Regions from separate parts of the Homo sapiens genome. Here regions 2 and 3 are each linked to region 1. The links come from fine-mapping of genetic effects on gene expression. A gene starts in region 1. Each other region holds a variant in brackets. All regions are shown on one strand. Distances are from middle to middle. Region 1 holds the start of F8 (coagulation factor VIII). Region 2 overlaps F8 (coagulation factor VIII). Region 3 overlaps F8 (coagulation factor VIII).

Region 1 (8,305 bases):
GTTTTCTTTTTCTTTTCAATTATACTGCTTAATATAGGATTTTGTGGCACCATAGGAGTTGAGTAAAAATAAAAGGAATAAAAATATACCTTATCTGGCCGGGCGCGGTGGCTCACGCCTGTAATTTCAGCAGTTTCGGAGGCCGAGGCGGGCGGATCACGCGGTCAGGAGATCGAGGCCATCCTGGCTAACATGGTGAAACCCCGTCTCTACTAAAAATACAAAAAATTAGCCGGGCATGGTGGCGGCCGCCTGTAGTCCCAGCTACTCGGGAGGCTGAGGCAGGAGAATGGCGTGAACCCGGGAGGCGGAGCTTGCAGTGAGCCGAGATCGCGACACTGCACTCCAGCCTGGGCGACAGAGTGAGACTGCGTCTCCAAAAAAAAAAGAAAAAATACGTTATCTATGAAGATTTCCAATTTGATTTCTATTTATCACAAATGGCCACAGTACTCCTTTGTACTTTACCACATACCATATTGTATTCAGTAATTATTTGTGAATATGTAATTGATAATATTGTAGGTTTTAGAGAATCCTTGAAAACATGAAAATTTGGTAATGGGGTCTATTTTGATTATTTATTTATTTATTTATTTATTTTATTTTTGAGACAGAGTCTCGCTCTTGTTGCCCAGGCTGGAGTGCAGTGGCGCGATCTCGGCTCACTGCAAGCTCCACCTCCCGGGTTCAAGCGATTCTCCTGCCTCAGCCTCCCAAGTAGCTGGGACTACAGGCACGTGCCACCATGCCCGGCTAATTTTTTGTATTTTTAGTAGAGGAGGAGTTTCATCTTGTTAGCTAGGATGGTCTAGATCTCCTGACCTCGTGATCTGCCCGCCTCAGCCTCCCAAAGTGCTGGGATTACAGGTGTGAGCCACCGTGCCCGGCCATATTTTGATTTAAAATTTAGCAATAATAGATAAAATTTTCAATCAACTAAGCCCTTGGGCCAGGGAATGCTATTCCTTAAAAAGTGCTTCTATCAATATAGCCTCTGACTCATTACTTTGTTAATTTTTAAATTGTATTTCATTCCTGATTAACATTCCCACCCAGATTATTAATTATACAATCTGTTAACTGTAGAACCTCAAACATGTTGGATTGTACTGTATTTGTCTGGAAGACACATTTTTAAAACATTGTAATCGCTATAAGAGAAGCACTGGGAAAGAAAGGAGCTTCTATGCCTGCAGTGCCTGAGGAGCCCTTTAACAGTGTGCCCCGCCCCTAAGCTACTCATGCAGTCATCCCCATCCCAGTTAGTCAACTTTATTCCAAAAAACTTGGTGTTCCAAATTTTTCCTTCTCAAAGCCCACAGATCCAAAATTCATCAGCAGTTCCCACAAACGTTACCCTCACAATGAATCCAGCCATTTTTCACCCTCTCCAGTGGTACCATCATAGCCCAAGCCGCCACCATTTCTCACCCCCGGTTAACAGGCCACCCTCCTTCTACCCTTATCCTGCTAGAGTTTGTTTTATCTACAGTGATCAGAAAGATCAGCCTAAAAGATAATTCTGATCACCACCCTCCTCTACTCACAACCCGGCCGTGTCTCCCCATTGCCCTCAGTGTAGAAGTCAATGTCCCTTTGCTGAAATGCAACCTTAGTGAAACTTTCCATGACTAACCTCCTTTAAAATTGCAACCTGGTCCACCCTTACTCCCCCTTACCCCACTTCTCTTTTTTGCACAGCACTTATTTTACCTTCTAACATACTGTATAATGTACTCATGTATTGTAATTATTGCTTATCATCCCTCTTTCAGTTGCTTATATTTTTCATCAATGTGTACCCAGTGCCTAGGACAATATCTGTCTAGGACAAATGGGTAGTTATGTGGCTGTAGGCAAGCCATTTAACCTCTCTGTACCTCAGTTACTTTATCTGTATCCACTTTGCGGTGTTGTCATGAGGATTAAATCAGATAGCCTATGTGTAGCACCTGGCAGTGAATTTATCACCCTGTACTGTAACTGTCTACTTTTCTGTCTCCTCCATTGGACTGTCATTCCCAGGGGGTTGGGAACTGGGATTTCTTCATTTCTGAGGCATAGAAGTATAGCATAGTGGTTAGGAGCATGACTTCTGGAGCCAGAGTACATGGGTTTGAATGCTACCACTCACAAGCTGTGTGGCCATGGAGAAGTTGCCTAACCTCTCCGTGCTTCAGTTTCATCACCCATAAAATGAAGGTAAGAATAGTACCTGTATTTAAAAGCACCTAGAACAGTTCCTGGCATATAGTGTCAGCTGTCATCTCTGCATCCTTGTACCTGTCAGAGAGGAGTGTTTATCAAAGGGGCTTCTTGCTGCCTGTTTCCAAACCAGTCGACAATATACCAATTGCTCCCTAACACATTCTTGTTTGTGCAGAACTGAGCTCAATGATAACATTTTTATAGCAACCCTGATCAAGTTTCTTCTCATAATCTCTTACACTTTGAGGCCCCTGCAGGGGCCCTCACTCTCCCTAATAAACATTAACCTGAGTAGGGTGTTTGAGCTCACCATGGCTACATTCTGATGTAAAGAGATATATCCTATACCTGGGCCAAATGTAAACAGCCTGGAAAAGTGTTAGGTTAAAAACAAAACAAAATAAATAAATGAATAAATGCCAGGTGGTTATGAGTGCTATTGAGAAAAATGAAGCCAAGAGGGATATCAGTGATGCAGGTGGGGGTAAAGAGCTTACAACATAAATGTGGTGTTCCATATTTAAACCTCATTCAACAGGGAAGATTGGAGCTGAAATGTGAAGGAGTTGTGGGAGTGGAACTACGTGGAAATCTGGGGGAAAGGTGTTTTGGGTAAAAGAAATAGCAAGTGTTGAGGTCCAGGGGCATGAGTGTGCTTGATATTTTAGGGAAGAGTAAGGAGACCAGTATAACCAGAGTGAGATGAGACTACAGAGGTCAGGAGAAAGGGCATGCAGACCATGTGGGATGCTCTAGGACCTAGGCCATGGTAAAGATGTAGGGTTTTACCCTGATGGAGGTCAGAAGCCATTGGAGGATTCTGAGAAGAGGAGTGACAGGACTCGCTTTATAGTTTTAAATTATAACTATAAATTATAGTTTTTAAAACAATAGTTGCCTAACCTCATGTTATATGTAAAACTACAGTTTTAAAAACTATAAATTCCTCATACTGGCAGCAGTGTGAGGGGCAAGGGCAAAAGCAGAGAGACTAACAGGTTGCTGGTTACTCTTGCTAGTGCAAGTGAATTCTAGAATCTTCGACAACATCCAGAACTTCTCTTGCTGCTGCCACTCAGGAAGAGGGTTGGAGTAGGCTAGGAATAGGAGCACAAATTAAAGCTCCTGTTCACTTTGACTTCTCCATCCCTCTCCTCCTTTCCTTAAAGGTTCTGATTAAAGCAGACTTATGCCCCTACTGCTCTCAGAAGTGAATGGGTTAAGTTTAGCAGCCTCCCTTTTGCTACTTCAGTTCTTCCTGTGGCTGCTTCCCACTGATAAAAAGGAAGCAATCCTATCGGTTACTGCTTAGTGCTGAGCACATCCAGTGGGTAAAGTTCCTTAAAATGCTCTGCAAAGAAATTGGGACTTTTCATTAAATCAGAAATTTTACTTTTTTCCCCTCCTGGGAGCTAAAGATATTTTAGAGAAGAATTAACCTTTTGCTTCTCCAGTTGAACATTTGTAGCAATAAGTCATGCAAATAGAGCTCTCCACCTGCTTCTTTCTGTGCCTTTTGCGATTCTGCTTTAGTGCCACCAGAAGATACTACCTGGGTGCAGTGGAACTGTCATGGGACTATATGCAAAGTGATCTCGGTGAGCTGCCTGTGGACGCAAGGTAAAGGCATGTCCTGTAGGGTCTGATCGGGGCCAGGATTGTGGGGATGTAAGTCTGCTTGGAGGAAGGTGCAGACATCGGGTTAGGATGGTTGTGATGCTACCTGGGCCCCAAAGAAACATTTCTGGGTAAGGTGTGCACACATCTGTGTTATTAGCAGAAATGCTAACTGCCAATTCTTTTCATAGGTCTGACCTATTTGTTGATATTTTGTTCTGTTTTGTCCATTGCTTCTCTTCGTCATATGCTGCTCCTCCAGAATCTAGAGACTGGAGTAGAGGGAGGGTGAAGGGACAAAGACAAAACTTCCCTCTGCCTGCCCAAGCTTCCATAGAGAGAATCAAGGCAATGAAATCCAATCAATATCACACACAAGTTTCATGTCTGGTTCTCTTGTGTGTACATGCAATGTGTGTTTTTATAATATCTTTTCCTACTTTGGGTGTAAGGATAATATGAGCCTTGAGTTCAGAAGCTTTTCGTGTTTTGGGGGTTCTGGTGCATTTAGGCAGAGTATTAAATAACTTTATCAATATTGTCTATGGTCATCAGTTGATTCAGATTTTTCTACCTCTTCTTCAGTAAATATTGGTATATTTTGGTCTATACTTTCATAGAAAGCAATCTACTGTCCCTAGATTTGATAATGTATTGGTATCAAGTTATGTAAGAGTCTCCTGTGATTTTGTTAAACTGTTCTGTGTCTGTAGTTATATTTTCTTTTTCATTCCTTATGTTGTATATGTTCTCTTCCTCTCTTTTAAAAATAATATTTCCAGGAGTTTTCTTGATTTTATTGGTCTTGTCAAGAATTTTCTTTTGGTTTGATTTATCAATCTCTTTTTTCTTTCTGTTGCATCAGTTTCTGCTTCTACTTTCATTGATTTATTCCTTCCTTCTAATTTCCTTTGGTTCATTTTGTTGTTAGATTTTTGCTTCTTGAGTTGAATGCTGAAATCATTTATTTTATTTTTTTGTCTTCTTTAAATGTGTATTATAAAGATTTAAATATAATACATAGATTGTGGCTGTGTAAACATTAAATGTGGTCATGTTGTACATACTTTATATTCTTTTTGGTTCTTTCTGTTTGGCTCCCCACCCTCTTTCCACATCAGTCCCCTTCTCCCCCACCTCAGCTAGGTAACCCCAGTATGATAATATATATTCACATACACATACACACACACAAAGGTTTTCTTGGACATTATTTGTTTTATAAAATTGGGACATTATACACACATTTCTCACTCATTAACACGTACTAGAACTCTAAGTCAATTGGTATAGCTTTAATTCATTATTTTTATTGGCTATATAAGATTCTATGGTATGGCTGTATCACAATTTAGTCAATATGTTCACTTTATTCCAGTTTTTGGCTACTATATCCTATATCATTACATACTGGTGCTTTTACTTCTGTTGAACAAACTTGCAAGAGGAATATTAATGGAACGAAGGGAATGTTTCCTTCTAAGTTTTAATTTCCAAAGAGGTCAGAACTTTTCAAACATTTCTACCATCGAAGTATGAAAATGGCCTTCTCTCTGCATTCACATAGCGATAAGTTTTATCCTGTTTTTAAAATTTGCCAATTTTACAGGTGTAGAGTGATATTGCATCATTACTTTCATTGTGTTATTTTTATTTCTAATAAGTTGAGCATCTTTTTAAATGCTTGTTGGCTATTGGATTTATTTGGGGGATTTAATTAGTCATATGATTTGCCCATTATTCTTTGGACTCTTTCATTTAAAAAAATTATGAGAACCCTTTTATTATTACAAATATTAACTCTTTGTCATGTATATTGCAGTTTTCCCCAAGATCTATTGTTTGTCTGTTGACTTTCTTATAACTTTTACCAAAACAGTTTTTAATTTTTATAATCAGAGATATCTTTTCTTTCATATCTTCAGAGTCGGCAAGGTTGGTTAAAAATGTTTCCCACACCTCAAGATTGTACGTGTAATCTCCCAGATTTTCTTGCAAGATGTTTACTGTTTCGCTTTTTATATGCATTGCTTCAATTATCTGCTAATTACTTTTGTCATATGGCATGAGAGAGGGATTTGTCTAGTTTTATTTCCATCCAGATCAATAGCCTATTGTGATGGCACCTTTTGCCACTGATTTGAATCAACACATTCATCATATAAAGTTCTCATATATATTAGCATATATTTCTGGATTCATTAGGCTGTTTCACTAATCTACTATTATCTTGCTATGCCAGTACCATAGTGATTTGATTACAGTGAGCCTATGATATCTTCTGATATCTGGTGGGTGAAAGCAATCCTCACTATTCTTTTTGTACCTTTCTTAGCTATTCTTAGACACTTTATTCTTCCACATAAAACTGTTAAGATATTTTTCAAATTAAAAAGATCCAAGCCCTGTTGTGATTCTAACTGCAATTTCATTAAACTCAGACCTTAATTTTATTAATGTAATAAATTTAAATATTTTTCTTATTACATTTATCTCTGTGTATTTTATAAGTGTGATGCTATTGTTAATAAGATAGTTTTCTCCTATTTCCATTTATGAGTGCTTAGTACCAAATAGAGATAAGCTATTGGTTTGTGTATTTTCAGCTTTTTCTTTTGAGCCTGGGTCTCATTTTGTCACCCAGGCTGGAGTGCAGTGGGGTGATCTCACCTTACTGCAGCCTCAACCTCCTGGATTCAAGCAATTCTCCTGTATATCAGCCCCCCAAGTAGCTGGGACTACAGGAGCAGGCCACCATGCCCGGAAAATTTTTGTATATTTTTTAGAGATGGGTTTTTGCCATGTTACCCAGGCTGGTTTTCAACTCCTGAGCTCAAGCATTCCCCCCACCTCAGCCTCCCAAAGAGCTAGGATTACAGGTTTGAGCCACCGCACCCAGCCATTGTATATTCATCTTAAATCTAGCTACCTTACCAAATTTGCCTATTAATTCTAGTAATTTTACCCTAAAGTCTCTGTGAGTATTGAATCATATCATAAGTTAAATGAGACAGATTTTAGCTCATTTCCAATATTTATAGCCAGTTATTTCATTTTCTTATCTTATTGAATTTATTAGAAAACAAGAGCAAATGTTAAATAATAACAATGAAAGTGAACATTCCTTCTACTCTATGATTTTACTTGAAATAATTTTTGTATTTTGCTATTTAGAGTAACATTTGCTGTTTTGGTTTTTGTAAATGGTGTTTATTCTATTCTCATTTGCCACAAAATGTTTATCATAAATAAGTTTTCAGCAGCTGGTATCATCTGAATTGTCTTCTTTGATATGCTGATGAACAAATTATGTTCATAGATGTCCTGACACTAAATACCCTTACATTCTTGGAGTAAAATCTACTATTCATGGAATTTGATCATTAGTGGGTTCTATGTACTATTTCTTTAGACTATTCTTAGTAGATTTTCACTACTCAACCTACTAATAATAATAAACAAAGTTTTGTTGGCTTTATCAAATGAATTGATGAGTACTCCATCTTTTTCTATTGCTTAGAATAGCTTAAGTAACATTTGAATTATCCATTGTCTAAAAGTTAGGTGAGACTCACTTATGAATCCATTTGGTCCTAGTGGCATTTGCAATATCTTTAATCACCCCTCCAGGCTCTTCTATGATAATCAGTCAATTCAAGTTTCAACTTCCAATAATTATATACCTTTCTAGGAAGTAACTTTATTTATTTTTTCAATTTTGTTGCCACAGTGTTGCATGTAGCACTCACTCATGATTCTTTTACTCCACATTATCTGTAGTTATGTGCCCTTTCTTATTCCTAAATTCCTCTATCTTTGCTATTTATCTTTTTTTCCTTGAATAAGCTTGCCAATGACTTGTCTATTTTGTTGCTGGTGGTGCTCTTTTCAAAGAATGGGCTTTTGGATTTTTTTTTTTTCTAGTTGGTATAAAGCATTTTTATTTTCACTGAGCAGAAAAAGAAGCTATTGATTCATTAACTGTGCTGCTTTATTGGCATGTAGCTATGCACTGTTCACACATTAATATATAAAACTCGTCAGTCTGTTTTATTTTGTCTGATGGGAAAACATGAACAGTGAGATTTCTTATGCAAAAAGTGAACAGTTCAACTATGCTAGCTCCATATACCTTTATTAACATTCCAGAGACTTATCCTCTCAACATGATCTGATTTCTGTAGGATAACTTTTCAGGAAAAGTATTTTCTGATCAGTGAAGCTTGGAGATATAAATAAGCAATCGGCCAGGTATGGTGGTTCATGCCTGTAATCCCAGCACTTTGGGAGGCCGAGGCAGGCAGATCACCTGAGGTCAGGAGTTTGACACCAGCCTAGCCAACATGGCAAAACTCCGTGTCTACCAAAAAAAAAAAAAAAATTAGCTGGGCATGGTGGTGCTCACCTGTAATCCCAGCTACTGAGGAGGCTGAGGCAGGAGAATTGCTTGAACCTAGGAGGCGGAGGTGGCAGTGAG
Region 2 (8,305 bases), 110 kb after region 1:
AGGAGGGAAAAATGCTTTCGTGGCCTGGGTCCAGGGCTCCCCTGCAGTGTTCAGCCTGGGACTTGGTGCCCTGTGTCCCAGCCACTCCAGCTATAAGAGGCCAAAGTACAGCTTGGGCTATAGCTTCAGAGGGTGCAAGCCCCCAGCCTTTGTTCTGTGGGTGCACAGAAGACAAAAATTGAGGTTTGGGAATGTCCACCTAGATTTCAGAGGATGTATGGAAATGCCTGGATGTCCAGGCGGAGGTGTGCTGCAGAGGCAGAGCCCTCGTGGAGAACCTCTGCTAGGGCAGTGAGGAAAAGAAATGTGGGGTGGGAGCCCCCACACAGTCACCACTGGGGCACTGCCTAGTGGAGCTGTGAGAAGAGGGCCACTGTCCTCCAGACCCCAGAATGGTAGATCCACTGAGAGCTTGCACCGTGGGCCTGGAAAAGCCACAGGCACTCAATGCCAGCCCATGAAAGCAGCCAGGAGCAGGGCTGTACCCTGCAAAGCTATGGGGGTGGAGCTTCCCAAGGCTGTGGGAGCCTGCCTTTTGTATCAGGGTGACCTAAATGTGAGACACGGAGTCAAAGGAGAACATTTTGGAACTTTCAGGTTTAATGACTGCCCTATTGGATTTCAGACTTGCATGGGGCCTGTAGCCCCTTTGTTTTGGCCAATTTCTCCCATTTGGAATGAGTGTATTTACCCAATGCCTGTACCCCTATTGTATCTAGGAAGGAACTAACTTGCTTTTGATTTTACAGGCTCATAAACAGAAGGGATTTTCCTTGTCTCAGATGAGACTTTGGACTTGGACTTTTGGGTTAAGGCTGGAATGAGCTAACACTTTGGGGGACTGTTGGAAAGGCATGATTCTGTTTTTAAATGTGAGGACATGAGATTTGGGAGGGGCCATGGGTGGAAACATATGGTTTGGCTCTGTGTCCCCACCCAAATCTCATCTTGAATTGTAGTATATTGTTTGTAAAAATTCCTGCCTATCCAGAGATTTTTTAAAAAAAAACAATACTTTCTTCAATTTTCTCTTACAATTTAATTTTTTACATTTAACTTTTTAATACTTCCTGTAGACTAAAAGTTATTTTGGTGCATTGTGTGAACCAAAGATCAAAGTAGTTTTATTTTTTTCTGAAAACATCTATTCATTTTTTCAATTAATTGATTGTTTATATTAAGGATCTAGGAGGATCTAAAATTATGGAATTGTGGGCAAGGGCAATTTTTGCCTTACATTTCATGTAAGGCAAAATAATCCCCATGTGTCATGGGAGGGACCCAGTAGGAAGTGATTGGATCATGGGGGCAGGTTCCCCCATGCTGTTCTCATGACAGTGAGTAAGTTTTCATGAGATCTGATGGTTTTATAAGCATCTGGCATTTCCCCTTCTGTCACCTCTCCCTCCTGCCACCTTGTGAAAAAGGTGCCTTGCTTCCCCTTCACCTTCCACCATGATTGTAAGTTTCCTGAGGCCTCTCCAGCCATGTGGAACTGTAAGTCAATTAAACCTCTTTCCTTTATAAATTATGCAGTCTCAGGCAGTTCTTTATACCAGCAGGAAAACAGACTAATACAGACCCTAAATATCCAAAGCAGTCCTGAGCAAAGAGAACAAAGCTGGAGGCATGATGCTACTTTATTTCAAACTATACTACAAAGCTGTAGTAACCAAAACAGCATGGTACTGGCATAAAGACAGAAACATATGCCAGTGGAACACAACAGAGAACCCAGAAATGAATCCACACATTTAGAGCCAACTCATTTTTGACAAAGTGCCAAGAATATGCATTGGTGAAAGAATAGTCTCTTCAATAAATGATGTTGGGAAAACTGGATATCCACATGCAGAAGAATTAAACTAAACCCCTATCTCTCACTGTATACAAAAATTAAATCAAAATGGATTAGAGACTTAAATATACAACCTGAAAGTATGAAGCTACTGGAAGAAAACATTGGGGAAATGCTCCAGGACATTGGTCTGGGAAATATTTTATGGCCTGGGAAATATCAAAAGCACAGACAACTAAAGCAAAAGTAGACAAACGGGATTATATCAAGCTATAAAGCTTCCGCACAACAAAGGAATCAATTAACAAAGTGAAGGGACAACCTACAGGATGGGATGAAATATTTGCAAACTATACAACTGAGAGGGTATTAATAACCAGAATATATAAGGAACTCAAACAAGTCAATGGCAAAAAAGCAAAGGATCCTATTAAAAATGAACAAAGATCTGAATAAACATTTCTCAAAAGAAAACATACAAATGGCCAACAGGTATATGAAAAACTGCTCAACATCACTAATTACCAGATAAATGCAAACCAAAAGCACAATGGATATTTCACTCCAGTTAAATGACTTTTATCAAAAAGACAAAAAATAATGAATGCTGATGAGGATGTGGCAAAAGGGGAATGCTTGTACACTATTGGTGGGAGTGTGAATTAGTACAGATACTATGGAAAAGAGTATGTATGTTCCTCAAGAAACTAAAAATAGAACGACCATGTGATCCAGCAATCCCACTGCTGGATATATATCCAAAGACAGGAAATCAGTGTATCAAAGAGATAGTTGCACACCAACATTTATTACAGCACCATTCACAATAGCTAGGATATAAAATCAACCTAAGTATACATCAACAGATGAATGGATAAAGACTGTGTGGTATATATACACAATAGACTATTACTCAGCCATTAAAAAGAATGAAATCCTGTCATTTGTGGCAACATCGATGAGCCTGGATGTCACTGTGTTAAGTGAAATAAGCCAGGCATAGAAAGACAAATATCACGTTTTCACTTACATGTGAGAGCTTAAAAAGTGGATCTCACGGAGATAGAGAGTAGAATGGTGCTTAAAGGAGTTTGGGAATGGTATGGGGGGGTGGGATGGAATGAAGAGAGGTTGATTAATAGGTGTAAAATGAAGGGGTGGCCTGCCCCTCGTCACCCACAGTGACGAGAAACACTGTGGGTGTTTCTCGTCAGGTGGGACGAGAGACTGAGAAAAGAAATAAGACACAGAGACAAAGCACAGGAAAGAAAAGTGGGCCCAGGGGACCGGCGCTCAGCATACGGAGGACCCGCGCCGGCACTGGTCTCTCAGTTCCCTCAGTATTTATTGATCATTATCTCTACCATCTCGGAGAGGGGGATGTGGCAGAACAATAGGGTAATAGTGGAGAGAGGGTCAGCAGGAAAACATGTGAACAAAGGTCTCTGTGTCATAAATAAGTTTAAGGAAATGTGCTGTGCCCTGATGTGCACGTATACAAACATCTTGGTGCATTAAAGAGCAGTATTGCCACTAGCCTGTCTCACCTCCAGCCTTAAGGCGGTTTTCTCTTTTCTCAGTAAATAGAACATACAATCGGGTTTTACACCGAGACACTCCATTGCCCAGGGACGAGCAGGAGACAGATGCCTTCCTCTTATCTCAACTGCAAAGAGGACTTCCTCTTTCACTAATCCTCCTCAGCACAGACCCTTTACGGGTGTCGGGCTGGGGGACGGTCAGGTCTTTCCCTTCCCACGAGGCCATATCTCAGGCTATCACATGGGGAGAAACCTTGGACAATACCTGGCTTTCCAGGGCAGAGGTCCCTGCGGCCTTCCGCAGTGTATTGTGTCCCTGGGTACTTGAGATTAGAGAATGGTGATGACTTTTTTTATTATTATTATTATACTTTAAGTTCTAGGGTACATGTGCACAACGTGCAGGTTTGTTACACGTGTATACATGCACCATGTTGGTGTGCTGCACCCACTAACTCGTCATTTACATTAGGTATATCTCCCAATGCTATCCCTCCCCCCACCCCATGACAGGCCCCGGTGTGTGATGTTCCCCCTCCTGTGTCCAAGTGTTCTCATTGTTCAATTCCCACCTATGACTAAGAACATGCGGTGTTTGGTTTTTTGTCCTTGTGATAGTTTGCTGAGAATGATGGTTTCCAGATTCATCCATGTCCCTGCAAAGGACATGAACTCATCCTTTTTTATGGCTGCATAGTATTCCATGGACAAGCATACTGCCTTCAAGCACTTTTT[T/A]AACAAAGCACATCCTGCATAGCCCTAAATCCATTAAACCTTGACTCAACACCGCACATGTCTCTGCGAGCACAGGGTTGGGGCTAGGGTTACAGATTAACAGCATCTCAAGGCAGAAGAATTTTTCTTAGTACAGACCAAAATGGAGTCTCTTATGTCTACTTCTTTCTACATAGACACAGTAACAGTCTGATCTCTCTTTCTTTTCCCCACAGTAAAATTACACTTAAATAGAAGGGATAAGTTGTAGTGTTCGATATTACAGTAGGGTGACTATAGTTAACAATGATTTATTGTATGTTTCAAAATAGCTAGAAGAGAAGACTGGGAATGTTCCCAACACAAATAAATGACAAATGGTTGAAGTGATTGATATTCCAATTACCATCATTTGATTATTACACATTGTATTCATGTATCAAAATATCACATGTATCCCCAAAACATGTACAATTATCGTGTATCAATTTAAAAATACATCATGATAGGCACCTCTCAGGTTGACTGTACTGTCCTGATTATTGCTAGTGGTGTTAACAAATTTGAAGCTAGTATCTTTAAGAACGGGCAGACCCATGAGCATGCCCTTCTGGTTTACACACTGGAAGTGAAACAACTAATTGTTGGTGTTAAAAAATGGATTTCACTGAACTATGCCATCGCCAACAGAGCTATGTGGAAATCAATAAGGAAGTCAGCCCTACATTAAGAATACTGGCTACAACCGCAACACAGTAGTATTTATGCCAATTTCTGGTTGGAATGCTGACAACTTGCTAACATGCCTTGGTTAAAGGGTGGAGAGTCACCTGCAGAGATGGCAATACCAGTGTAGCACACCGCTTGAAGCTCTGGATTATATCATACCACCAGCTCATCCAACTGACAAGGCTTGTGCCTACCTCTCCAGGAAGTCTACAAAATTGGTAGTATTGGTAATGTCTTTGTGGGCCTAGTGGTGACTGGTGCCCTCAAACCCAGCATGATTGGTCAGCTTTGCTCCAGTTAACATTACAACTGAAATAAAGTCTTTTGAATTGCACCATGAAGCTTTAAATGAAGCTCTTCTTGGGGACAATGTGGGCTTCAGTGTCAAGAATGTGTCTGTCAAAGATGTTTATCATGGCAATATGGCTTGTGACAGCGAAAATGACTCGCCAACGGAAGCAGCTGGCTTCCTGAACCATCCAGCCCAAATCAGTGCTGGCTCTCCACCTCTGTTGGATTGTCACACAGCTCACATTGCTTGCAGGTTTGCTGAGCTGAAGGTGGTTGATTTCCTTCTGGTTAGAAGCTGGAAGATGACCCCCATTGTGATTTTTATTGCTATGGTTTCTTTCTAATTTAGTCTTGAGGTCTCTCCCTTGAGAATGGTCATAAGCCAAGAGAGCCACTTTCTAGGAGAGTCCTGACCAGGGGGAAAGTTAAGTTTGAGTGTGTCAGCTTGGTGAGACACAATGAGGAAGTAAAAACAAAATAAATAGTGGAATAGAATACTAACAAGTACCTAGAAATAAGTCTAGCTAAAAATTTGCAAAATGTCTATGGAAAAAAAAACTATGGAAATTTACTGAGAAACTTTAAAGAGTACCTAAATAACTTTCAAGATATACCACGTACATGAATTGGAAAACATGATATTTGAAAATGTCGGTTATTCCCAAACTGATTTATAGATTCAGTGCAACCTGAATGAAAATCCCAAGACGTTCCTTTTGTAGAGCTCAACAAGCTGATTCTAAAATTAATATGAAAATGTAAAGGTTTATGAATAGCCAAGTCCTTCTTGAAGAGGAAGAATAAGATGAGAGTAATTGCTGTCTAATATATTGAGACTTATTTTAAAGCTATAATAATTAAAACAATGTAGCAGTTGGTATAGGGATAATCAAACAGGTAAATGAAATAGAATAGAAAATCCAAAACTAGTCTAACACATATAGAAACTTGATTTATGACAAAGGTGTCACAGAAGTAGAGTTTCAATAAAATGCTGGAAAATGTTGGTATCTATATAGATAAAACATTACATTGGATTCCTAACTCACACCATACACAAAAATCCATTCACATTGCATTACAAGTCTAAAAGTGAAATATAAAATCATAAACATTTTAGAAAGAAAATGTAAAAGAATATATCAATAACCACAGGGTAGGGAAAGAAAGAGAATTGACATCAAGATACAAAAAGCCCTAGCCAATAAGGTTTTTTTTTATAAATTCCACACATTAAAATTACAAACTTATGCTCATCAAAAGATAACATAAAAACAATGAAAAGATTAGCCACGGAATGGTAAATGTTTGCAATACATAACACAAAGGACACACAAAGGAAACTTATATAATAGATTTTAACAGGCTTCTCTGTGTCCTTCTTCTCCAGCAATCAAGGAATATATAAAAAAGCATATCAAGGATATATAGGGTACTCTTTTGATTCAACAAGAAAAAAGCAGATTATCCAAGAGAAAACTTGGCAGAAAAAAGCTTGGATAGGTGCTCCACAAAAGAGGACATCCAAATGACTGCTACTCATAAGAAAAGATGCTCAACCTCATAGAACATCCAAAAATGTAAAAACACAGTCAATACCAGATATTTGTAATAATTTGGAGCAAATGGAACTCTCATACATTGCTAATGAAAATGGAAAATGGTCCAGCTGCTTTGGAAAACAGTGTGGCAATACCTACCAAAGCCAAACACATGCATACCTAGTAATTCCGCCCAACAGAAATGCACATATATGTTCACCAAAAGATATGCACCAGAAGGTTATAGCAGGTCCATATGAAAGTGCCAAAGATTATAACAACTCAAATGTCCGTGATTAGGGTATATTCATATAATACTATACAACAATGGGAATGAACAAACTATAGCTACATATGATAATATAGATGAATCTCACAACCAGAATGCTAAGTGAAAGAAGAAACAAAAGAATATATGTAGTATGTTTTATTTACACACTTCAAAACAGGCAAAACTAAACTATATTTTTAAAGGATGTATACGTAACTGGTAAAATTATAAAGAAAAGCAAAGAAATGATTATCATAAAGATCAGAATGGTGGTTACCTTCAGTGGGAAGGGAGAAAGTATGATTGAAAAGGGACATCCAGTGAGTCTTGTGGGTTGTTGGCAATGTTACTGATCTGGGTGATGATTGCATTTATGTACCAAAGGCATTTGTGTTTTATGCACTTTATTGTATATGTTTTAGTTCACAATTTTTTTAGTTCACAATTTTAATAGGGCTTTAAAAAGTAAAAAGAAAAGAGATCCAAGGGCTTGACCATGGGACTCTCTTATATTTGGAGTATGTTTATAAACTTTACATTCATTCAACATTCGACAAATATTTTTTGAGCACCTACTTTGTGCCAAGCACCGTTACAGGTGCTGGGAATACAACAGGGAACAAAACAGACAAAACCCCAGCTTTCATGGAACTTACATGCTAATAAAGCTTGGCAAGAGTATTTCAAGGAAGATGAAGTGGTTAACTATGCAAAATGCTTCTCAGGCACCTAGGAAAATGAGGATGTGAGGCATTTCTACCCACTTGGTACATAAAATTATTGCTTTTCCTCTGCTTTTTTTCTCCAGGGCTCAGAGTGGCAGTGTCCCTCAGTTCAAGAAAGTTGTTTTCCAGGAATTTACTGATGGCTCCTTTACTCAGCCCTTATACCGTGGAGAACTAAATGAACATTTGGGACTCCTGGGGCCATATATAAGAGCAGAAGTTGAAGATAATATCATGGTGAGTTAAGGACAGTGGAATTACAAGAAAATTAATTTTATATATTTATTTTCTTGCTGACTATAATGTATTCCCACTTTTGGAAATTTTTAAAGTATAGAAAAATAATTCCATAATTATCTTTGTGTACGTTCTATTTTTCCTATGTATTTTTCTCCTTATGTATTCAAATTATACCATGCAGAATTCTGATTCTTGTTTTTTTACTAAATATCACATCATAAACATTTCTTACGTCATTAAAAACACTTCCTATGTATGTTTTTAAAATACTGCATAATAGTCTATTATATGAATTTATGGAACCATAGTTTATGTAACCATTTATTTTGAACAAGCTTTTAGACAGTTTCTTTTTTCACTATATAAATAACGCTGTAATCACAACAGTTTTTCTAAGATAAAATTCCAGAAGTGCAATGTATTTGAGCATCTTAAGAGTTTTTCTTATTAATTAT
Region 3 (8,305 bases), 40 kb after region 1:
GGGTGATAAAGCCAGACCCTATCTCAAACAACAAAACAAATAAAATAATTCAATTTCAAGGTAAAGTGCAAAATGCATTATCTATTCTCTGGTGACATTTCCAGCCTTGTTGTGTTCCATTTCCTGCCTTATCTTCCATGTCACCCAAATATGTAATGCTTTTTCTTGCATGAGACCTCTGCATATGCAGTTTCCTCTGCCTGGAAAAATCTGTCTCCCTCTTTACACTAAGTAAGCTTCTCCTTTTTCTTTAAGTCTGACTTACTTCAGTTATCCCCTTCCTTAATTCCTTCTCCCAGGATGACCTCTAGTCTGGATTAGATGCCTGCTTATATTTCCACAGCATCTTGAGCTTATTCCTTATCATACTATATCAGTATTTTCTACTTTATTTAATATTTATCTTCTTTGATCTCATATCTTTTTCCCTTCAAGCAAAGTGAAATTTCTTCTCCTCTCTGCTCCCTGTAACACCCTACTCTCATCTTTATTATATCACTCTTTACTCTTTATTATAATTATCAGCTTCTCTGACGATTCCAGCTAGAGTGTAAGCATCTTGAAAGCAGAGGCTGTATCTTCCTCTCTATCATCAGTGTCTACAATTAGTAGTGCTCAATAAATATGTGTTTGAATGAATGAACAAATGAATGGCTGCCTCATAAAGTTTTAGCACTAGCTACCAGTCCTTCACACAAAGGGGTAACTCCAGGGAGTCACTGTTCAATAGTATTTCCAGTGCTTCAGCCCTTATCAATTTCAGAGACAGTGTTAGGGAGCTTTCAGGTTCCTGGGGTTTCATAAATATAAGCTGGGATGAAGCAATTATAACGGAGACAGGGACTGACAGACAGCCTTTTTCCTAGGACAATTTTCTTTTTTCTTTTCTTTTTTTTTTGAGATCGAGTCTCACTCTGTTGCCCAGGTTGGAGTGCAGTGGCACAATCTTGGCTCACTGCAACGTCCACCTCCCAGGTTCAAGTGATTCTCCTGCCTCAGCCTCCTGAGTAGCTGAGATTACAGGCACATGCCACCATGCCCGCCTAATTTGTGTATTTTTAGTGGGGATAGGGTTTCACCATGTTGGCCAGGCTACTCTCAAACGCCTGACCTGAAGTGATCCACCTGCCTCAGCCTCCCAGAGTGCTACGATTACAGGTGTGAGCCACCGCGCCCGGCCCCTAGGATGATTTTCATAAGCTTTCTTTTAAATAATTCAGCTAATAAAAAGAATTGAATCCTGATGCCTCAAGCTAACCAATATTCTGTCTTCTATTATTATCCATTCCCACTTATTGTCATGGACAAATGGAGGGAGAGAAAATCAGTTTGAGCAAGAGATGTCTGCCTTTACATAATTATCTTCTCCCTCCCTCACACTGACTTTGAGAGGATAAGTGCTGTGTGCCTACTTTGCTGACAAAAATGCTTAAGGTGTGAGCACACTGGGAGCAGGGAAGGAGAAAGGGGAGGCGGTCATTCATGAGACACATGCTTAGCTGACTCTATCTTTGCCTTCTCTCTCATCAGGGAAAAGTTGGCACTCAGAAACAAAGAACTCCTTGATGCAGGATAGGGATGCTGCATCTGCTCGGGCCTGGCCTAAAATGCACACAGTCAATGGTTATGTAAACAGGTCTCTGCCAGGTATGTACACACCTGCTCAACAATCCTCAGGGTCTTCCAAATTCAGCACCAGAGTTCTGTACTTCAGTTCACAAACAGCTCGGCATCTCAGAGGATATAGCCCACTGAATACTTGAAGATCTCTGGCCTCTGGGGATCTTAATGTATAGTAGGCAATTCCTCTTTTGGTCACCTGAAAATGAAGGCTTACCCATGTACATACAGCCCACAGTCAGATTTTTCTTTCCTTTTCTTAAATGTGAGTGGGCAACCAAGGATGAACAGACATTTAAAAAGAACCTAAAATATGGAAGGGATATGCAAAGATGAACAAAGAAAATAATAATCCCAGAATAAAAAAAGCTATGGCTCAGAACAGAACTCATCGGAAGCTCTTACTTCTATTTTCATAAAGATTCAAGAAGATACTGCATCAATAAAGTAACAATAAGATGCCTTCCAGTTTTAAAATAGGGGCATAGAGGCAGGCTGGCTTTACTCCCTCTCACAGAAAACCAAAACCAAACATACAGCACCAATATCTACACCAACAACAACCCAGAGCTCACATGTGAGGATGAGACAGTTCCCGGAGCCACAGAGAAGTGAAAAAACTTTGAGAATCAGACTTCCACATCCATGACTCTCCTTCCTCCTATTCTGCCCAGCACCAAGTGTATGGAAAATCTCCCCTCAACTCATGGTTTCTACACTGGAAAAAGTGACATTGAGGTGTTCAACCAGCTTCTCCACCTTCTTGGGTTCCCTGGGGGGAGATTTGTCCTTGCCTTAACCCACAGAAAACATCATGACTGTCTGAAGGCAGAAATATCCCAGAGTACAGGCAGAGACAAATGAGGGAGGAAGGACTACCATCCCCAGCCCTGGAAATTCTGCTCTATAATTTGGCCAAAGACATGCAAATTCAGAATGGCCGTGCAGCAGCACCATGCTGTAGCAGGTTTATCCTACAGGTCACCTTGGCATGAATCACTAGCTGGCCTTCCAACACTGCTATGATAATCCCTTTGGGACCTCACCCACTTGGGACAGGCAGGGCTCTGACCACTTACTGGAACACCTGTAATCCCAGCACTTGAGCTCAGCACAATAACAATAGGAGATGGCTACTACCGTTAATTTTATGCAGTTACGATTTAATACTGGATCTTTACGTTTGTTTACATTTGTCCCAACTGGCACCTTCATCACCTCCACCCTCCCCACCCCAGACTATGGTAACCACGATTCTACTCTCTATTTTCACAAGATCCACTCTTTTAGCTCCCACATGTGAGTGAGAACATGTGGTATTGCCCTGCAGTGTCACCTATGTTGATGCAAATGAAAATATTCTTTTTTATGGCCAAATAGTATTCCATTATGTATATATACCACTGAACTGTACACTTAAAAATGGTAATGATGGCAAATTACATATGTATATTTTACATCAATAAAAAGAAACTTAAAAATAAGGTAACAATAGGATTCTATGAAAAACAATCATAACAAAACGTGCTCATAAAAATTATAAACACAATGGTCAAAATAGAAACTCAATAGAAAGTACTAAGAATAGATAAAATCTTTCATAAGGTCAAACAAAATGTGGTTGAGAATATAGTTGACCCTTGAACAATGTGGGGGTTGGGGTACTAACCCCCTGCACAGTCAAAAATCCATGTATAACTTTTGACTCCCTCCAAATTCAAGTACTAATGACCTATTGTTGATCAGAAGCCTTATCAATAACATAAACAACAAATATTTTGTGTATGTATTATATGCTGTATATTTTCAATAAAGTAAGCTAGAGAAAGGAAAATGTTATTTATACTTTTCTCTGCTTCTTGGGAGTACTTCCAGCATCACTAGTGGCACTTTATACGGGTCCCAAGTATCCTTCAAAGTTTATGGAGAGATGAAATGCTTATGCAGAGATGATTAGCATCATGCAGAGTTTTCAGTGGATGCCTGCAGCACTCGAGCTCAGCACAATAACAATAGGAGATGGCTACTACCGTTAATTTTATGCAGTTGCGATTTAATACTGGATCTTTACGTTTGTTTACATTTGTCCCAACTGGGAATGGTGCCATGTATGGTTGTAAGTATGTAAGTTTTTATAAATTTCAACTTTTTATAATAGATTTTTGTATATTTTATGGTAATAAATGATAAAATAGTCTAGTATCAACATGTATATGTATATATAAGTGTGTATACATATATATATATATTTTTTTTTTTTTTTTTTTTGAGACGGAGTCTTGCTGTCGCCCAGGCTGGAGTGCAGTGGCGCAATCTCAGCTCACTGCAGGCTCTGCCCCCCGGGGTTCACGCCATTCTCCTGCCTCAGCCTCCCGAGTAGCTGGGACTACAGGCGCCCGCCACCTCGACTGGCTAATTTTTTGTATTTTTAGTAGAGACGGGGTTTCATTGTGTTAGCCAGGATGGTCTCGATCTCCTGACCTCGTGATCCACCCGCCTTGGCCTCCCAAAGTATATATATATATTTTTTGAGACGGAGTCTTGTTCTGTCACCCAGGCTGGAGTGCAGTGGCACAATCTGAGCTCACTGCAACTTCCCCCTCTTGGGTTCAAGCGATTCTCCTGCCCCAGCCTCCCAAGTAGCTGGGATTACAGGCATGTGCCACCACGCCCACCTAATTTTTGTAGTTTTAGTAGAGATGGGGTTTCACCATGTTTGCCAGGCCGGTCTTGAACTCCTGACCTCGTGATCTGCCCGCCTTGGCCTCCCAAAGTGCTGGGATTATAAGTGTGAGCCACTGCATCCGGCCATCTCCATATATTTTTTGCATTCATAACATACCTTTTTCTTAATTTTTTTGATATTTTTACCCTATGTGGTCCATCTGACAGTTTTTTCAAATTGTCATAAATTTCCAAAAAAATCTCACTATATTTATTGAAAAAAAACTGCATATAAGTGGACTCATGCAGTTCAAACCTGTATTGTTCAAGAGTCAACTGTGTGTTTTAAAGCAGATTTTAACATCAAGAAATGATAGAAAAATGATAAGAATTAAAAGAGATAAATATTCATATTAGAATTGCCCATCAGGAGCTTCTGAGTAGCTGAACGCATGGAGGTTCCTGGAGAGTGGCTGGCCCCATGCCCCTTCCCACATACCCTTCCTTATATATGCATCTCTTCCATCTGGCGTTTATAAGAAAAGGTGCTGACTGCTGAATTATAAGGACACTGTGGTCTACTAGATAAAGGT[T/C]GAGGAGAGGGGTTTGGGCTTCTATTGTCTTCTTTCCGGGCCTTCATCTCCTGCTTGTGATTAAGTAGTGCATGCTGAGTGGAGCAAAGTGGTGGAATAGGACTCTTCAGCAATAATCTCCTCACAGAAACATCAAGGTAACAACTCGATGCGTGAAATTACCTTCAGAAGAGTTAAGAAAACCTGAACCCATGAGCAAGACTGTGAAGCCCTTTTGGACTGCAAAGACGAGTAAAACCATAGTTGCACATAAAGGGGATTGGTTCTTTATGACTGAGACCCCACCCGCAAGCCACTGCAGTACCACAGGCGGAAAGTCACCATGGACCCACGGTTTTTACACCGGAAAACTCTCCCGTATGGCCTGAGTGCCCTCTGTGGATCTCCACTAATTAGTAGCAGAGCCAGCATGAGACTTGCGTCTAACCTGGGCTCAGGGCGCCCTCTCGTGCTAAAAGGAAATACAACAGCCAGTCCTTTCACTTTCTTTTTGATATGGTCTCTGTTGCCTAGGTTGGAGTGCAGTGGTGCGATCATAGATTACTGCAGTCTTGAACTCCTGGCTGGGCTCACACGGTCTTCCCACCTCAGCCTCCAGAGTGGGACTACAGGTGTGTGCCACTATGCCTGGCTAAATTTTCGGGTTTTGTGTGTGGGGTGGGGAAGATTGGGGTATTGCTATGTTGCTCAGGCTGGGTCTCGAACTCCTGACCTAAAGCAATCCTCCAGCCTCAGCCTCCTAAAGTGCTAGGTTACAAGTATGAGCCACCACACTCAGCCCCACTCAATTTCTAAACGAGCTCACTGAAATAGAGCAGTCACAAACAAACCCAGACTGTGAACATGAGAATAAATACCTAATTCTTCAATGTGTAGACAGGGATGCACATCTGCAAAGAATAAGAATAGCCTAAGAAAGACAGCCTCAACAAATGAACAAAAAATCGTGCCAGTGACTAATCCTAAAGACATGCAGGTGAATGATCTGGTAGACAAAGAATTCAAAATAGCTATTTTAAGAAAACTCAACAAACTTTTATAAAACACAGAGAAACAATTCAGAAGTTTATCAAAGAAATTTAACAGAGAAATTGAAGGAATAAAAAAAGTCAGAAATCCTGGAACTGAAAAGTATAATAAAAAATGACACATGCAATACAAGACATCAGCAACAGAATTGATCAGGCAGAAGAAAGGATCAGCAAGCTCAAAGACAGGTTATCCAAAAATACAATCAGGAGGGGCTTCAGGATGGTTGACTAGATGCATCTAGTGTTCATCCCTTCCATGGAGAGGAACCAAAGTAGCAAGTAGATAATTATACTTTGAATAGGTCATCTAAGAGAGAACACTGGAATTCAACAGAGCAGTGACAGGAAGCATTGAAAGCAAGGGAGGAGAGAGAAATAAGGCCTGTTTGCCTGGGATTGGCTGGGAGTCTGGAACAGCTTCCTAATGTGGGGAAAAGGTAAGAGACCCTTAGTGTTCCTCATTTTCACCAAGGACTCTTGCAATCCTAGCCACAGGAGAGCGCCTTATTCCTTGACAGCACAGAGACTAGCATAGGGAGTTGCCTAAAGACCGTGTGAAGGCATTGCAACAGAGAGCTCACGCTGGATTCTGCAATTCTCCCAAGCAGCTGCAGCACAGCACCATTTTGAGAACACAGCCCACACATCCTGCCCTGCTATGATGGCCGTGACTTAGGCAGGAGCCCTGAGCAGTGATCCTGCCCCACCCAGCAGAGGAGTGCCCATGCATTTTCACATATTCCAAGAACAAATTCCACTACCTACAACCACTGCTGCTGCAGGCTGCTGTGGGGCCAAAACACTAGTGAACCTTGTGCTCCCAAGCTACCTGCCTACAGCTACTCCCTGAGAAAGCAACCCCACCTTCACCAAGAGCAGGGCTATAGCACAGCTACTGCTGCACCCCAACCTGAGCATTTTGCTAGTGACCTCGGTATCACCCCACCCCTGCATAGCACAACCAGCACCTCACACACCACCAAGGAGCCTGAGGGCAGGTTCACGTAGCCCAGCTCTACCTGCCCCCAGTACCCAAGCATATCATCCAGGGGCCTAGGGATCACTTAGCCCTGTCCACCACTGGTGGCACCTGAGCACCTCCTGGGGTCTGAGGTCAGGCCCACTCAACCTGCCACTACTGCCACAGTTAGCACTCACTGCATGCACCACTTGAGGGTCTGGAGACTGGCCATGCGATCCATAGCAGCCACAACCAACGCCAGCACAGACCACTTGAGATTCAGGTTGTTTCATTGCTATGATTGCCATCAACCATGCCACTTTGCTGCCCAGGAACTTGAGAACCCACCCACCCATGTGATCCATCAATACCACTTCTGGCACCCAAGTAAACCACTTGGAGGCCCACAAATCAACCTGCCTGGACCTAAAACCAGTGCAATCATATGCCACCATGGTACACCAAAGACAAGCACACTCAGCCCACTGCTGCCACCATTGGGGCCTGAAGACAGGCCTACCTGGCATCCCACTTCTCAGAAAAACTTCACCACAGCCTCCACTAATAACCACACCCTAAGCCACTGAGAAAATCACAAATATCACTGATGCTGTTTAGAATCTTATACAGAGGCTACTACATTCACCGAGAATCAAAACCGAAGTGCTCTACCCAAGCAACACCACAGATACATCTTCAGGAAAAAGTTCTTTCCTACAAAAGCAAATTTTAAAAATTGGAAAAAGTGATTATTACACCAGATGTGCAGATATCAATGTAAGGACACAGGAAACATGAAAAATCAAGGAACTATGACACTCCAAAGGAGCACAATAATTCTGTAGCAAGAGATCCAAATAAAAAAAATTTAAGATGGGTACAAAAAAATAGAAAGAATGAATAAGACCTGCTATTTGATAGCACAACATGGTGACTATAGTTAATAATAACTTAATTGTACATTCTAAAATAAAGAGTGTAATTGGATTGTTAATAACTCAAAGGATAAGTGCTTGAGGGTATACATACCTCATTCTCCATGATGTGTTTGTTTCACATCACATGCCTGTATCAAAACATCTCATGTGTTCCATAAATATATACACCTACTATGTATCCACAAAATAAAAAAATCATAGTTTACAAGCAAAACAGTATATGTGACCATTGGTTTTTAAGTAAACTGGCCAACATCTCTTTAAAAATTTATGAAATCCTGGAAAAATAATTCCAAATTTTGATACTAAATAAACTCAGTGAGATACAAGAGAATTCTGAAAAAAATACAAAGAACACAGAAAAACAATTGAGGCTATGAAAGAGAAATTTACCCAAGAGATAGATATCAAAAAAGAACCAAACAAAAATTCTGGAACCAAAGAATTCATTGAATGAAATACAAAATAGATTTGAAAGGTTCAACAATAGACCGGACC

What was found.
Region 2: its variant is fine-mapped to the expression of F8 in whole blood (TOPMed, PIP 0.95).
Region 3: its variant is fine-mapped to the expression of F8 in whole blood (TOPMed, PIP 0.92).

What each region holds. Positions count from the first base shown.
Region 1 is chrX:155,017,936-155,026,240 of GRCh38, reverse strand. It overlaps F8 (coagulation factor VIII), which reads left to right and starts at 3,518. Exons shown (of 26, transcript NM_000132.4): 1 at 3,518-3,831. The coding sequence starts at 3,689.
Region 2 is chrX:154,905,962-154,914,266 of GRCh38, reverse strand. It overlaps F8 (coagulation factor VIII), which reads left to right. Exons shown (of 26, transcript NM_000132.4): 15 at 7,694-7,847. It also overlaps the pseudogene EEF1A1P31. Among named protein-coding and RNA genes, the nearest start is that of MIR1184-1, 23 kb to the right of the region's middle. The variant T/A (reference allele first, on the strand shown) is at 4,075.
Region 3 is chrX:154,978,029-154,986,333 of GRCh38, reverse strand. F8 (coagulation factor VIII) reads left to right here. Exons shown (of 26, transcript NM_000132.4): 6 at 1,531-1,647. Among named protein-coding and RNA genes, the nearest start is that of F8, 41 kb to the left of the region's middle. RefSeq lists enhancers at 5,225-5,274, 5,375-5,424. The variant T/C (reference allele first, on the strand shown) is at 4,878.